3 separate regions of the Homo sapiens genome follow, and regions 1 and 3 are each linked to region 2. The links come from fine-mapping of genetic effects on gene expression. A gene starts in region 2. Each other region holds a variant in brackets. All regions are shown on one strand. Distances are from middle to middle. Region 1 overlaps ATP11B (ATPase phospholipid transporting 11B (putative)). Region 2 holds the start of ATP11B (ATPase phospholipid transporting 11B (putative)). Region 3 overlaps ATP11B (ATPase phospholipid transporting 11B (putative)).

Region 1 (4,245 bases), 31 kb after region 2:
TTTTTGTATAAGGTGTAAGAAAGGGATCCAGTTTCAGCTTTCTACATATGGCTAGCCGGTTTTCCCAGCACCATTTATTAAATAGGGACTCCTTTCCCCATTTCTTGTTTTTGTCAGGTTTGTCAAAGATCAGATGGTTGTAGATGTGTGGTATTATTTCTGAGGGCTCTGTTCTGTTCCATTGGTCTATATATCTGTTTTGGTACCAGTACCATGCTGTTTTGGTTACTGTAGCCTTGTAGTATAGTTTGAAGTCAGGTAGCGTGATGTCTTCAGCTTTGTTCTTTTGGCTTAGGATTGTCTTGGCAATGCGGGCTCTTTTTTGGTTCCATATGAACTTTAAAGTAGTTTTTTCCAGTTCTGTGAAGAAAGTCATTGGTAGCTTGATGGGGATGGCATTAAATGTATAAATTACCTTGGGCAGTATGGCCATTTTCACGATGTTGATTCTTCCTATCCATGGCCATGGAATGTTCATCCATTTGTTTGTAGTGACACAGTTCTTAAGAAATTATGCAAGAAATAAAAGCTCTTGAAAACTTTAGGTTTTTTTTTTAACTTGGGGTATAATTTACATACAGTAAAATTTATCAGTTTTAAGTGTGCAGTTTGATGAGTTTTGACAAATCTGACCACCGCCATAATCAAGATGTGGAATATATCCATTGCTTCAAAAAAAATCTTTCATGGTCTTTTGCAGCAGGTCCCCCTCCTCCTCACCCCCCAGGCACTAGCAACCACTGATCTGCTTTCTGTAACTATAGTTTTTTCTTTTCTAGAATTTCATATAATACAACACAAGTCTTTTGTGCCTGACTTCTTTTTTCGTAACATAATGCTTTTGGGGTTCATTTTTGTTGTTGCAAGTATTAGTATCAGTAATTCATTCCTTTCTAGTGCATAGTTTAGCTGTCAGCCTGGAATTGTGTAGTTAATGTTTTGAATATAAGCCATTTTCTTTGTGTGGTTCTCTGACAATCAGTATTTTCCCTTTACATTTCCAGCTGCTTTTCCAGCCCTGAACTCTAATCTTGGTTACATGTTGTTGATGAGGCTGTAGTTTTCCCCAGCTGTTTTGCAGCCATTGTTGTGTGTGGTAGGTGGATACTGTCTCCAAGCTAAGAAGCCAAAAATTCACAATTTATACTTCTTCCATTTGCAATTTTTTGAAATTAAACTCTCTTCCCGTTTCCATCTATATTTTGGACATTTTCCAGTATTTGACATAGTTTTTAAAATGTAATCTTTATAATTCTTATCTGCTGGGAGTCCACAGGACCACCTCTTTGTCAATAGTGGAAACTGAGTGTCCTCCTAGAAAGCTTTTGGGATTAAATAAGTATCTTTAAATGACTGTCTCTGTACACAGAAGTATTTGGTTTAATGTTTTTGACCATATTTTTTAAAATGTGGATGTTTAAAGAAGTATTGCCTTTTTAAATGTTTACGGTAAATGAGGACTGTCTCATTACTACCTATTACGCCACTATTGCTTTCATAAACTCCTTCCAAAACAGATTACCTGTTATTCCACAAACTCATGTTGAACTTTCCTACCACTGTGCCTTTGCTTTGATTTCATGTTGTTAGCCACAATTTTTAAAATGTAAATTTTATGTATTTGTGGACATTGTAGATTTTATGTTTTTGTAGAAAGGTAGAATTCATATCTTTGACCATAATTTCAAGAATGTAAATATTTATACAGATACTGTCACTTTTTTCCTGAGCATAAATGAAGCCTGCTTCTCATTACTTTCATTTTACTACCTTTCACTCCCCTGTTATTCTCTTGGTCTCCTTCCAGACTGCATTGTTTTCTATCTCACAAAGCCATGATGAGCTTTTCTCCTGTCCCTTTGCTCATGCTGTCCTAGCTTCCTGAAATGTTCTCCCTTATTTGCCCTGGATTTTCAGCCTGTTGAATGTTCTTCTTTTAAAGCACATGTCAAATATGACTGTCTTGTTAAATTTTTTTCATACACTTTACCTTTGAATACAGCTATTAATGTTTTGTTCTTAATCTCCTCTACTTAATATTAAACATCTTATTTCTGTTTCTCTTATTGTGGAAGTGTCTTGCATGTTGTGGTTGTGTGGTATGTCTTTAACTGGCCATAGTAACTACATTATCTTAAATTTAAACTTTCTTTGGCCATGTGTAGTGGCACACACCTGTAATCCTAGTACTTTGGGAGGCCAAGGTGGGCGGATCACTTGAGGCCAGGAGTTTGAGAACAGCCTGGCCAACAGGGTGAAACCCCGTCTCTACTAAAAAAATACAAAAAAATTAGCCAGGTGTGGTGGCGGTTGCCTGTAGTCCCAGCTACTTGGGAGGCTGAGGCAGGAGAATGGCATGAACCCAGGAGGCGGAGCTTGTAGTGAACAGAGATCGAGCCACTGCACTCCAGCCTGGGTGACTGAGTGAGACTCTGTCTCAAAAAAAAAAAAAAAAAATACAGAAAAATTAGCCAGGTGTGGTGGTGCATGCAAGTAGTCCCAGCTACTCAGGAGTCTGAGACATGAGAATCGCTTGAACTCAGGAGGCGGAGGTTGCA[G/T]TGGGCCAAGATTGCGCCACTGCACTCCAGCCTGGGCAGACAGAGTGAGACTGTCTCAAAAAAATAAAATAAAATAACCTTCTTGCAAAATATTTAATTTTATAGCCATGTTTTAGTTTTCTTAGGAGAAAATAAGGTCAATTATAAAGTCATATATGACTATAGAGAAGTTACACTTCTAATTCATTTGTCTTAACCATTATTACATAACAAAGAGAACTTTAAAGCATAATAAATTATTTTCTTAGCAGTATTTTCATAATGTTTGATATTATGCTACTAGAGTTCTCCCTCTCTATACAATAGGACAAGCACAGAATTTAGACTCATTCACAATCTATTATGTTTGTATTTCAGAAAAACTAGAAACAATTTCTACCATTTATGTGCTAGTTTTCATAAGAAATTTTTATTTGTTCTGAGTTGTTCCTTGTATTATTGAACTAGCCAAAGAAAACACCCTGAAACCAATTACTTTACTGCCAATTTATATAGCTGTTCTCTTCAGGATTCTGGAATACAAAATATATTGTTGCTGTTACGTTTCAAATAGATTGCTGTAAACTTAGGAGACTTCCAACCTTCCTTATAAAGTATTATACATTTGGTGACTGAGATACTCTGACAACTGATTTTTAATTCCAATTAAGATCACCTGCAGGTGACTTGACACACAATTACCATCTCATGTGTATACATTGAACATTGACTTCCTTTGGCTCCAGGAAGTATCTACCTCTCTTCTTTCTAGAGCCCTAAACATACTTCCCATCCTCAGATTCTGGAACCACTGCTGCCGCCACTACTCAGGGAAAATATGTTTCACATATTCCAGATTCAAACTGAAAATATAATTTCACCAAAGAAGGAAAGTTTGTTGCTATTGGACTAGTCTTTCCATATCCCTGGGTCAGATAGGCTTTTGTGGGCTTTTCTGGGAACCTAACTCTGTTTATAAGGTTGTTCATGTGGGAAACAGTGTTTCAGGTCTCAAACAGCTAATTAAGAAGTGAACTTTTGACAATGAAAATCCAAAAATTAGAGCCATCTGACATGACACTAGGTAACGTAAAGTACCTCTTTGGAAATCTTGAATTGGTCAGTAACCATTGAGGCCTCATTGCCTGAGATCAGGATATTATCTCAGAAAAAACCCGTTGTCAACCATATTTATTTATTCATTAATCTATTCTGCAAAATATTTGATCTCTACCTATGTGCCAAGGAGTAGTATATGTGCTAGAGATAGAACAGTAAATAAAATGATATCCCTGGCCTCAGGGATCTTATATTCTTCTGGGAGGATGTACATAAAGTAAACATTCTATAAATCAATTTCCCTGTTTCATGTATGAAGTTATGTTGTGAGTTGTAACACAAATAAAATTTGCAGCATATTATTCTGCCCTTGTAATACAGCATTATAGGTTTTTGAGCTGAGTAATAATAATAAGCACTTTTATAGCAATTAGTATGAGCCAGGTTCTGTCCTAAGTGCTTCTTCAGTATGTTAGCTGATTTAATGTTTATAGGAACCCTATAAGATATGATTAATATTATCCTCATTTTATAGAGGAGCAAAGTGGGACACGGAGAGATTAAGTCCAAGGTCATTTAGTGAGTATTACAAATTAAGATTTGGGCCACCACAGTTTAACCCCAAGCATCTATGCTTTTAACCATTGTG
Region 2 (4,245 bases):
AACGGGAATAATACCTACTTCAAGGGATTGATTGGAGTTAAATTACAGCATACAAGTAAAGAACTTGATACAGGACCTGGGTGCTCCATGAATGGACACAGTGCTCCATGAATGGCAGTAAGGTTTTGTCACTAAATATATCTCAAAACTTCCTTTTAGGGTCATAAAGTAAGGTTTAGCCACAAGAATAAAAGTAAGATGACTTTTCAAATATCTAGCTATTTTTTGAAGTTGGATGATTTATAATATAAAATTCCATGTTGGTTTTACAGATCATAAATATCCCCAAAGAAAGATTCTATTTGTGGTGCTGGATAAGCATTATATAGTAAGAAATGTCTACTGAAACTAGAAGATTGAGGATGCATATTCAACGACCTGCCTAGTCATGCTAATCTCATTTAGATTTGTTCTTGCTTAATTTTTTTTTTTTTTTTTTTTTTTTGAGACGGAGTCTCCTTCTGCCGCCCAGGCTGGAGTGCAGTGGCGCCATCTCGGCTCACTGCAAGCTCTGCCTCCCGGGTTCACGTCATTCTCCTGCCTCAGCCTCCCGAGTAGCTGGGACTACAGGCGACCGCCACCACGCTCGGCTAATGTTTTGTATTTTTTAGTAGAGATGGGGTTTCGCCATGTTAGCCAGGAAGGTCTCGATCTCCTGACCTCGTGATCCACCCGCCTCGGCCTCCCAAAGTGCTGGGATTACATGGGATTACAGGCGTGAGCCACCGCGCCCGGCCGCTTAATTTTTTTTTTTTTAACCACAAACGTCTGTCGGTGAAGTGTGCTTTAATTCAGCAAAAATACAGCATTCAATACATATACATAACACAATATGTATACGGGGCTGCTTTTAAACAACGCCAAACCTTTAAGTCAAAGCCTTGTTCCAGTTGCTTGTATATTCCTTCTGAGCTTGTCATCCACACACTTTTTTAACCTAGGTCAAGTTACTGCTACGGGTGTTTTTGATTGCAGAAGTTTGGCAGTTAGCAGTAAAGAACTACCTTTTTATACAAATTATCTTCCCCTGAACCTGTCCAATTTAGCACACGGCAAGACAGAATATCTCATCCATTCGCCTAGAAACACGGGTCCAGGCTGTACCAGGCTCAGGGGACTTGCAACGCTTTCGAATCACTTAATGGGTGTGATCAAGATTTCCCTAGCCCCGTCTCAGCCATTTGCTAAAGAAGAGGCCTGACTTGTGTTGAGACGAAAGCTCTTACAGCTTGATGGAACCCAAACTGGGACTTCTGGGGGGATTAACTTTCAGTCACATACGTTCAGGACTGTGCGTATGCGTGTCGGGAGACGCGTGAACCAAAGAAGCCACAGAGCCCGAAAAAGACCTGCAACAGGAGGTAGAGACCGAGGAATCGGCCCCAAGCTGCAGACTCCGGAGATGGCCAGACCCACAGACACGACTTAATCCCACTCCCAGAACGGGGAGGAGGGTGGCAGTGGACAGAAACAGCGTTCGAGAACCCGGCACCTTTCCACGCTCGCTTCTTCCCGGACCCACAACACAGAAACCCCCCAACTCGGAACGGCGGCGGGGCGCGCCAGGCCCCCCTCGGTCCGCGCACCCCCTTTCGTCACGTCCGGGGGCGGGCCGGGGCGCCGGGGGCGGTCCCGGGTGGAGCCGGGGGGCCGGGCGGGGCGGGGCGGGGGTGGGGTTGCGGGGGTGCTTTGGGTGACAACGGTCAATAATGAAGGTGGCTGCGGCGCGGCGGCAGGCTCAGCTGCGCCGGGCGGGGGCGGCGCCGGGGCCGCGCCTGTAGGACTCGGGGCCGACGCCGCGGGATGGGGACGCGGCGCGGGGAGTGAGGCAGTGGCGGCGGCGGCGGTAAGCGGAACTTCGGCCCGAGGGGCTCGCCCGCTCCCGCCTCTGTCTTGTCGGCCTCCACCTGCAGCCCCGCGGCCCCCGCGCCCCGCGGGACCCGGACGGCGACGACGGGGGAATGTGGCGCTGGATCCGGCAGCAGCTGGTAGGTGCCCCCGCCCCTCCACCTCCATTCGTCCGCCCCCGCGGGGCCTCTCGGCCCGGGGTGGCGGGGAAAGGCCGGCGGCGCGGAGCCGGGAGGCCAGGGCGTGGGCGCCCGGCTAGGCCGCAGCGGAGACGGGCGCGGGGCCCAGAGCCGGAGAAGCCCCGTGCGGCTCCCGGGCTCGTCTCGCCTCCAAGCCCGGGCCGCCGAGGCTGGCGCCGAGCGGCCGGAGGCGGCCGCTTCTAGCCGGCGCTTCTCCGTTACTTCTTCCCCCTTGCCGCTCCGGGGCTGCTGTGGCCAGAGGCGGGAGTCCCGAGCGGGGTGGCGGTGCCCCCAGAGGAAACAGGGCGAGGGAGCTGAGCGAGAGTAGGTCTTGGGGAGATGAGAGAGGCGTGCTCTTCCTGCCTCGAACAATTTGGGACGTGTTTGGGTGAAGGGGAAGCGAAGAACCTGTCTTCTGCCCCCACTCGTCACGGACTTCTGGAAGCGTGTCACGATCCAGAGCTGTGTTGATTCCCGAGGAGGAGGCTGTCGTAGGTGTCTAGCCCCCTCAGCGAGAGACGTTTCTCCCCAGGACCTGGAAAGGGGAAAGACTGTGCCAGCTGCCGGTCTAGCTTCGGAAACGATACGTATTGTACGATAGTTACGAACGATACGTACTGTCGTTTCCTTCCTACCTCGTCCTCACCCCACCCCGAGTGAAACTTTTCGAGTGTGAACCTTACTTTTTTCCCGTTCTCCTCAAGGCAGTTTGAACGACACAGGTTTGGAAGGAATAGTTAACTCTCCAGTATTATTGGAACATCTGGACACCACCAACAAAAAATCTTAGAAAAGGGTCATTTAAGGCCTATAAAAAGTGCCACCTTTCCCAGAATTAATTCAGAGAGAAAAATCTTATCTGCCTCCTGGCAGCTACAGCGCAGAAAGTACAGCATTAAGGCAGCTGTGACAATTAGGACAGAAATTGCCCCTGGCTGAAGAAGCCTAACCTTATCTGTGTGATGAGGCCGGTTACTATTTAATTTCTAAATCGCATTAACTTAATGCTTCTACAAGTTGGCGTTTTCATTTACTAATTCTAAAGGCAGTGGTAAAATTTAGTGAAACAGGAACTATTTTTGTGGGACGAAAGCACTGATAACTCTTTTTCCCTTCTGCTCTAGAAAAGCATTTTAACGTTAAGACCAAGAAGTGTGGTGTTTCAGAGCCAGCCTTCTGTTACTTCGTTTTGCAGCGGGCATCATTCTCAAAAAAAAAAAAAAATTATAAATAAGAACTGCCTACCACTCCCTCCTACAAATGTTGGGTCTCTGTTTTTAGCATTGTAAATTCAGATATCCCAGATATATGCTTTATTAGGAAACCAAGCTAATGATGTCATTATAATACCATCTTGTAATACTTTGGCTTTGTTGCAGTAAGCTGTAGCACAGTAATTTTACTCAGAAAGTTAATTATTACAGATTTGATCTTATGCTTTTGATTTGCCAAATCTTCTTGTATAGAGGGCTGATTTACCTGATGGTGTTTTTGTGTGGTAGGAAGATCATTTTAAAGTGGTTCTCTTGAAGCTTTTTTAAAAATGTATTGAGACATCCTTTCTCACTGTTAGGTATTTTTTAGCCAGAATAAAATCCTGGTTGTATAACCATGCTCATCTTCAAGACAGAAAACCTGGTAATGTTTTTTAAAATGGCTTCAAATGAACCCAGCTAAAAGGAAGGGCCGGAAGTTGTGTGTGGTTATTTTACAAGGCAGCCGTCTTAACAGGGATGGTTAACGAGTTGAACAAGTTCCTGTGCATAAAAAATGCTATCTCTGACATTTAGTTGCTCACCTCACTGGTTTTAAGTTATCAGATCCTCTAAGTATGTAATCATACTTGGGCCAATGTAGGACTTTGTGTCTCTGGTTAAGTTTGTATGATCACATAAATTAAACATCAAGGACCCTGGATACAGAGTAATGAAAGTATATTTTGCTATCCCAGTCATAGACAGCTATTCTGATTACTGCACCAGAAATTATTCAACTCAGGTAAAAGCTAGTTTAGATTATACTTCCAGTGGCTTAATGGATTGAATCACCACGACTTTCAGCAATGGGTTTATTTTAAAATGCAGATAACTAGGACAAATTTGGGGAAATTGACAAGCAAATCCTAAGGACAGGTTGGAGTTATAAGCATATTTAATTCGTTATATGAATCCCGATTTTCAACTAATGTCTCACAAAAAAGTCCTTTTATTACAGAAAC
Region 3 (4,245 bases), 56 kb after region 2:
AGAACTAATAAGTGGCAGAGCTAGAATTCAAACCAAGGTCTAGCTGCAAAGTTTTTTGATAAGCTGGTCTCACCTAATTCCATTTGTTGTCCAGTTTTAGTCCCATTACTACTGTCATCCTTGCTCATCTCAAAGTCATTCAATAGGCGCACATTTTTTAAATAGCACTTTCCATGTGCTTACTTGATTTACTCTGACAGACTTCCATGTTATCTCTCCAATGGTTATGGAATAATGTCTAGACCCCCGATTCCAGCATTCAGGGCTTTTCACACTGTGGCCATAGTCCATTGTCCCAACCTAACAGAAAGTGCTTTTCCATATCTGTCTTTGTTAACACTGCTGTATTTGTAATGGCCTTCCCTGACACTTTTATCTTTCCAGATTCTTTTCCTCTATCAATTCCAATTCAAGTAATAAATTTTTCATTCAGGTATCTGTTACAACTCAGGAACAGGACTCCATGCCCTCCCCCATTTAGCCAGTTGAGTGACTGGGGCTTCCCAAAATTGGACTCAGAAAGCCTTTTAGTACTCTGAAAATACTTAAAGAAAAGCAAAATTATAACAACTGTCAGACAGTACACTAAAAGCTTTCATGCTGGTAAATATATTTATTTCTTGTGAAACATGCTAGAGGATTATTTTAAGAGACAATTTTGTTTTATTTTACAGGTGTTGCGGTATACACTGGAATGGAAACTAAGATGGCATTAAATTACAAGAGCAAATCACAGAAACGATCTGCAGTAGAAAAGTAAGAAAACTGTTTTCATTTATTTATATGTAATTATAACTCTACATTTTTTATTCGTTTGGTATAAAATATTATATATATAATATATATTAAGTAAACAGAATGAAAACCTTGGGGACAGTGATAGTTTCTTATATTTTTACATACAAGTAACATTTTGCACAGTATTGGACATGTAGTAAATGCTCTATAGTATGACTTTTAAAATAAATACTATTGAATAAATGGTGGAATCACTTAATCACACTAACGCAGATAACAGTTCTAAAACTGAAAAAAAAATTTAAATAAACAACTATTTGAAAACATTGGAGACAAACCAGAATCGAATAGAAATGGGCAAGGAGTGTAATCCTGAAAGATGATAGCAGCAAGGGGGAAAATTTAAGAGTATAGCTTTTTGCCTGAGGGCACTCCCCAGTTTATGTGCTGCTTGGGACATCAAAAAGTCTGAACTTTACTGGATAGAAGTATCAGAGGACAAGGTTAATAGCTGGAAGAGCAGCTGGAAAGTTAGGGGAAAATAATGTAAGGGGATTAGCATTAATTCCCTTCTGTAAGCAATGAGATGTAAGCTACAGAATGGAATTAACTCTAAAAACTGCACATAAATTCTGCCCAGGTCCTTGGCTGACTGCTAGAACTATACATGTGCAAGGGAGACAAAAGAACTCAACAGAATTTTACTGCTGCCCATTGCATTGGAGACACAGTTTGTTGAACTAGGTGAAGTTAACTTCCTACTGGAATAAAAATAGCACTCTTCTGAGGAACATAAAAGAATACAGACTGTCTACAATGTATTATTATGAAGTCCAGTCTGCAATAAAAAATAAGCAGAATATGAAGAAAATGTAATTCATCCATAAGATAAAAAGCACTCAATAGAAACTGTCTCCAAAATGATCCAGATCTTGCATTTAGCAGACGAGAACTTTAAAGCAGATATTATAAATTTATTATAAACATGTTTAAGGGCCTAAAGGAAAATTTGAATGAACATATGGGAAAACACAGCAGAGAAATGAAAACTCTTGACTTGAAAAACATAATTACTAAAATGGAAACATCATTAGGTGGGTCTCAACACCAGACTGAATAAATCAGACCAGTGAACTTGAAGAAAACACAAATTACTCAGTCGAAGAATGGAGAGGAAAAAAGATTAGGAAAAATGAACAGAGCTTCAGAGCCATGTGGGATAATATTAAGCTGTTTGGCATATGTGTAATTGATTCCCAAAAAAAGAGAAAAAAGGACAGAATAAAAATATTTGAAAAAATAATGACTGAAAATTTCTAAAATTTGAGGAAGAAACTTCAGCCTACGCTACCAAGATCAGCAAACTCTAAGCAGGAAAAATATAAAGAAATATAAAGAAACCCACACCAAAGCACATCATGGTCAAAATACTAGAATCCAAAGAAAAAGAAAATATTTCATGGAGCCGAAGAGAAATG[C/CGTG]ATCACATGTAAATGAATAACAATATAAGCGATAACCAGTTCTCATCAGAAACAACGGAGGACATTGGGGAAAGGACATCCTCTTCAGGAAATGATGCTGGGAAAATTGGATAGCTACATGCAGAAGAATGAAACTGGATCCCTATCTTTCACCATATAAATAATCAACTCAACGCTGAGCACGGTGGCTCATGCCTGTAATCCTAGCACTTTGGGAGACCAAGGCAGGAGGATCACTTGAGGTCAGGAGTTCGAGACCAGCCTGGCCAACATGGTGAAACTCCGTCTCTACTAAAAATACAAAAATCAGCCGGGTGTGGTGGCGGGTGCCTGTAGTCCCAGCTACTCAGGAGGCTGAGGCAGGAGAATTGTTTGAACCTGGGAGGCAGAGGTTGCAGTGAGCTGAGATCACGCCACTGCACTCCAGCCTGGGCAACAGAGCGAGACTCCATCTCAAAAAACAAAACAAAACAAAAAAAAAGTGTATCAAAACCACAATGAGATGTCATCTTGCCAGCCAGAATGGCTATTATTAAAAAGACAAAAAATAAATAAATAAATAAATAACAGATGCTGGCAGGGATATGGAGAAAAGAAAACTCTTATACGTGGTTGGTGGGCATGTAAGTTAGGATAGCCACTATGGAAAATAGCCTGGAGATGTCTCAAAAAACTAAAAACGTAATTACCATATGATCCAACAATCCCACTACTGGGTTTTATCCAAAGAAAAAGAAATCAGTATATCAAAGGAATATCTGCACTTGCATGTTTATTGCAGCACTATTCATAATAGCAAAGATAAGGATTCAATCTAACGGTCCATCAGCAGACGGATGGATAAAAAAATGTATACATACCTAAAAAAAAAGGTATACATACCCACACAATGGAATACTATTTGGCCATAAGAAGAATGAAATCGTGTCATTAGCAGCAACATGGATGTAACTGAAGATCATTATGTTAAGTGATACAAGCAAGCACAGAAAGACACTTCATTAGTGGCACACACCCGTAATCCCAGCACTTTGGGAGGCTGAGGTGGGTGGATCACTTGAAGTCAGGAGTTCAAGGCCAATCTAGTCAACATGGCAAAACCCTGTCTCTACTAAATATGCAAAATTAGCTGGGTGTGGTAGTGTGCGCCTGTAGTCCCAGCTGCCTGGGAGGCTGAAGCAGAGAATTGCTTGAACCCAGGAGGCAGAGGTTTCAGTGAGCCGAGATCGCACCACTGAACTCCAGCCTGGGTGACAGAGCGAGACTCCATCTCAAAAAATAAAAAAAGACTCTTTATAAATATTTTTCAAAGAACCAACTTTTGGCTTTAATTTTGTGTATTTTTTTTCTCTTTTCCATTGCCTTCAGCTCACATCTTCAATTAATTTCCTCCGTTTCTTCTCAATTTGGGTCTAATTATTTCTCTTTAACTTCTTGTGATGCTAGATGAACTCAAATGATTAATTTTAAGCTTTCTTTTTCCCTTACATAAACAGCACAAAAGATGATGGGGGGCTTTAAATGAACTGTTACAAAGGTCTTACATTTTACATGAAATAATACAATAGCATCTATAAATTACAATAAGGTAAAGATGCATATTCTGACCTCTAGAGCTTCCATTAAAAACAATAAGGCAAAGATTTATAGCTAATAAGTTAGAGCAACTGAATATTAAAATGTTTGGTAAACACAGTAAACAGCAAGAAAGGAAGAACAGCGAAACAAAAAACCAAATGAGAGAATAGAAAACAAATAGCAAAATGGTGGTCCGAAATTTGACCAAAAATTACATGAGATATAAATGCATCAAACAGTCTAATGAAGTCAGAGATTGTCAGATTGGATAAAAGAGCCAGACCCAACTATATGCTGTCTAGAAGAAATACAGTTTACATACAAAGATATAAATAGGTTGACATCAAAAGATATACTATGTATATTGTAAGCCTATGAAAACTGAACACTAGAATAGTTCCATAATTATACATGGAAAGTTCATCTAGACAGATCATATGATGTGCCATAA

Evidence for each region. PIP is the estimated chance that this variant, and not a neighbour inherited with it, causes the effect.
Region 1: its variant is the best candidate, but not a certain one, in a credible set for the expression of ATP11B in whole blood (INTERVAL, PIP 0.83).
Region 3: its variant is the best candidate, but not a certain one, in a credible set for the expression of ATP11B in whole blood (INTERVAL, PIP 0.86).

The regions. Positions count from the first base shown.
Region 1 is chr3:182,823,284-182,827,528 of GRCh38, forward strand. All of the region lies in intron 2 of ATP11B (ATPase phospholipid transporting 11B (putative)), which reads left to right. Among named protein-coding and RNA genes, the nearest start is that of ATP11B, 32 kb to the left of the region's middle. The variant G/T (reference allele first, on the strand shown) is at 2,559.
Region 2 is chr3:182,791,799-182,796,043 of GRCh38, forward strand. It overlaps ATP11B (ATPase phospholipid transporting 11B (putative)), which reads left to right and starts at 1,706. Exons shown (of 30, transcript NM_014616.3): 1 at 1,706-1,988. The coding sequence starts at 1,962. It overlaps ATP11B-DT (ATP11B divergent transcript), which reads right to left and starts at 1,566. Exons shown (of 3, transcript NR_187316.1): 1 at 1,282-1,566. RefSeq lists a silencer at 1,541-2,290.
Region 3 is chr3:182,847,802-182,852,046 of GRCh38, forward strand. It overlaps ATP11B (ATPase phospholipid transporting 11B (putative)), which reads left to right. Exons shown (of 30, transcript NM_014616.3): 10 at 675-756. Among named protein-coding and RNA genes, the nearest start is that of ATP11B, 56 kb to the left of the region's middle. The variant C/CGTG (reference allele first, on the strand shown) is at 2,217.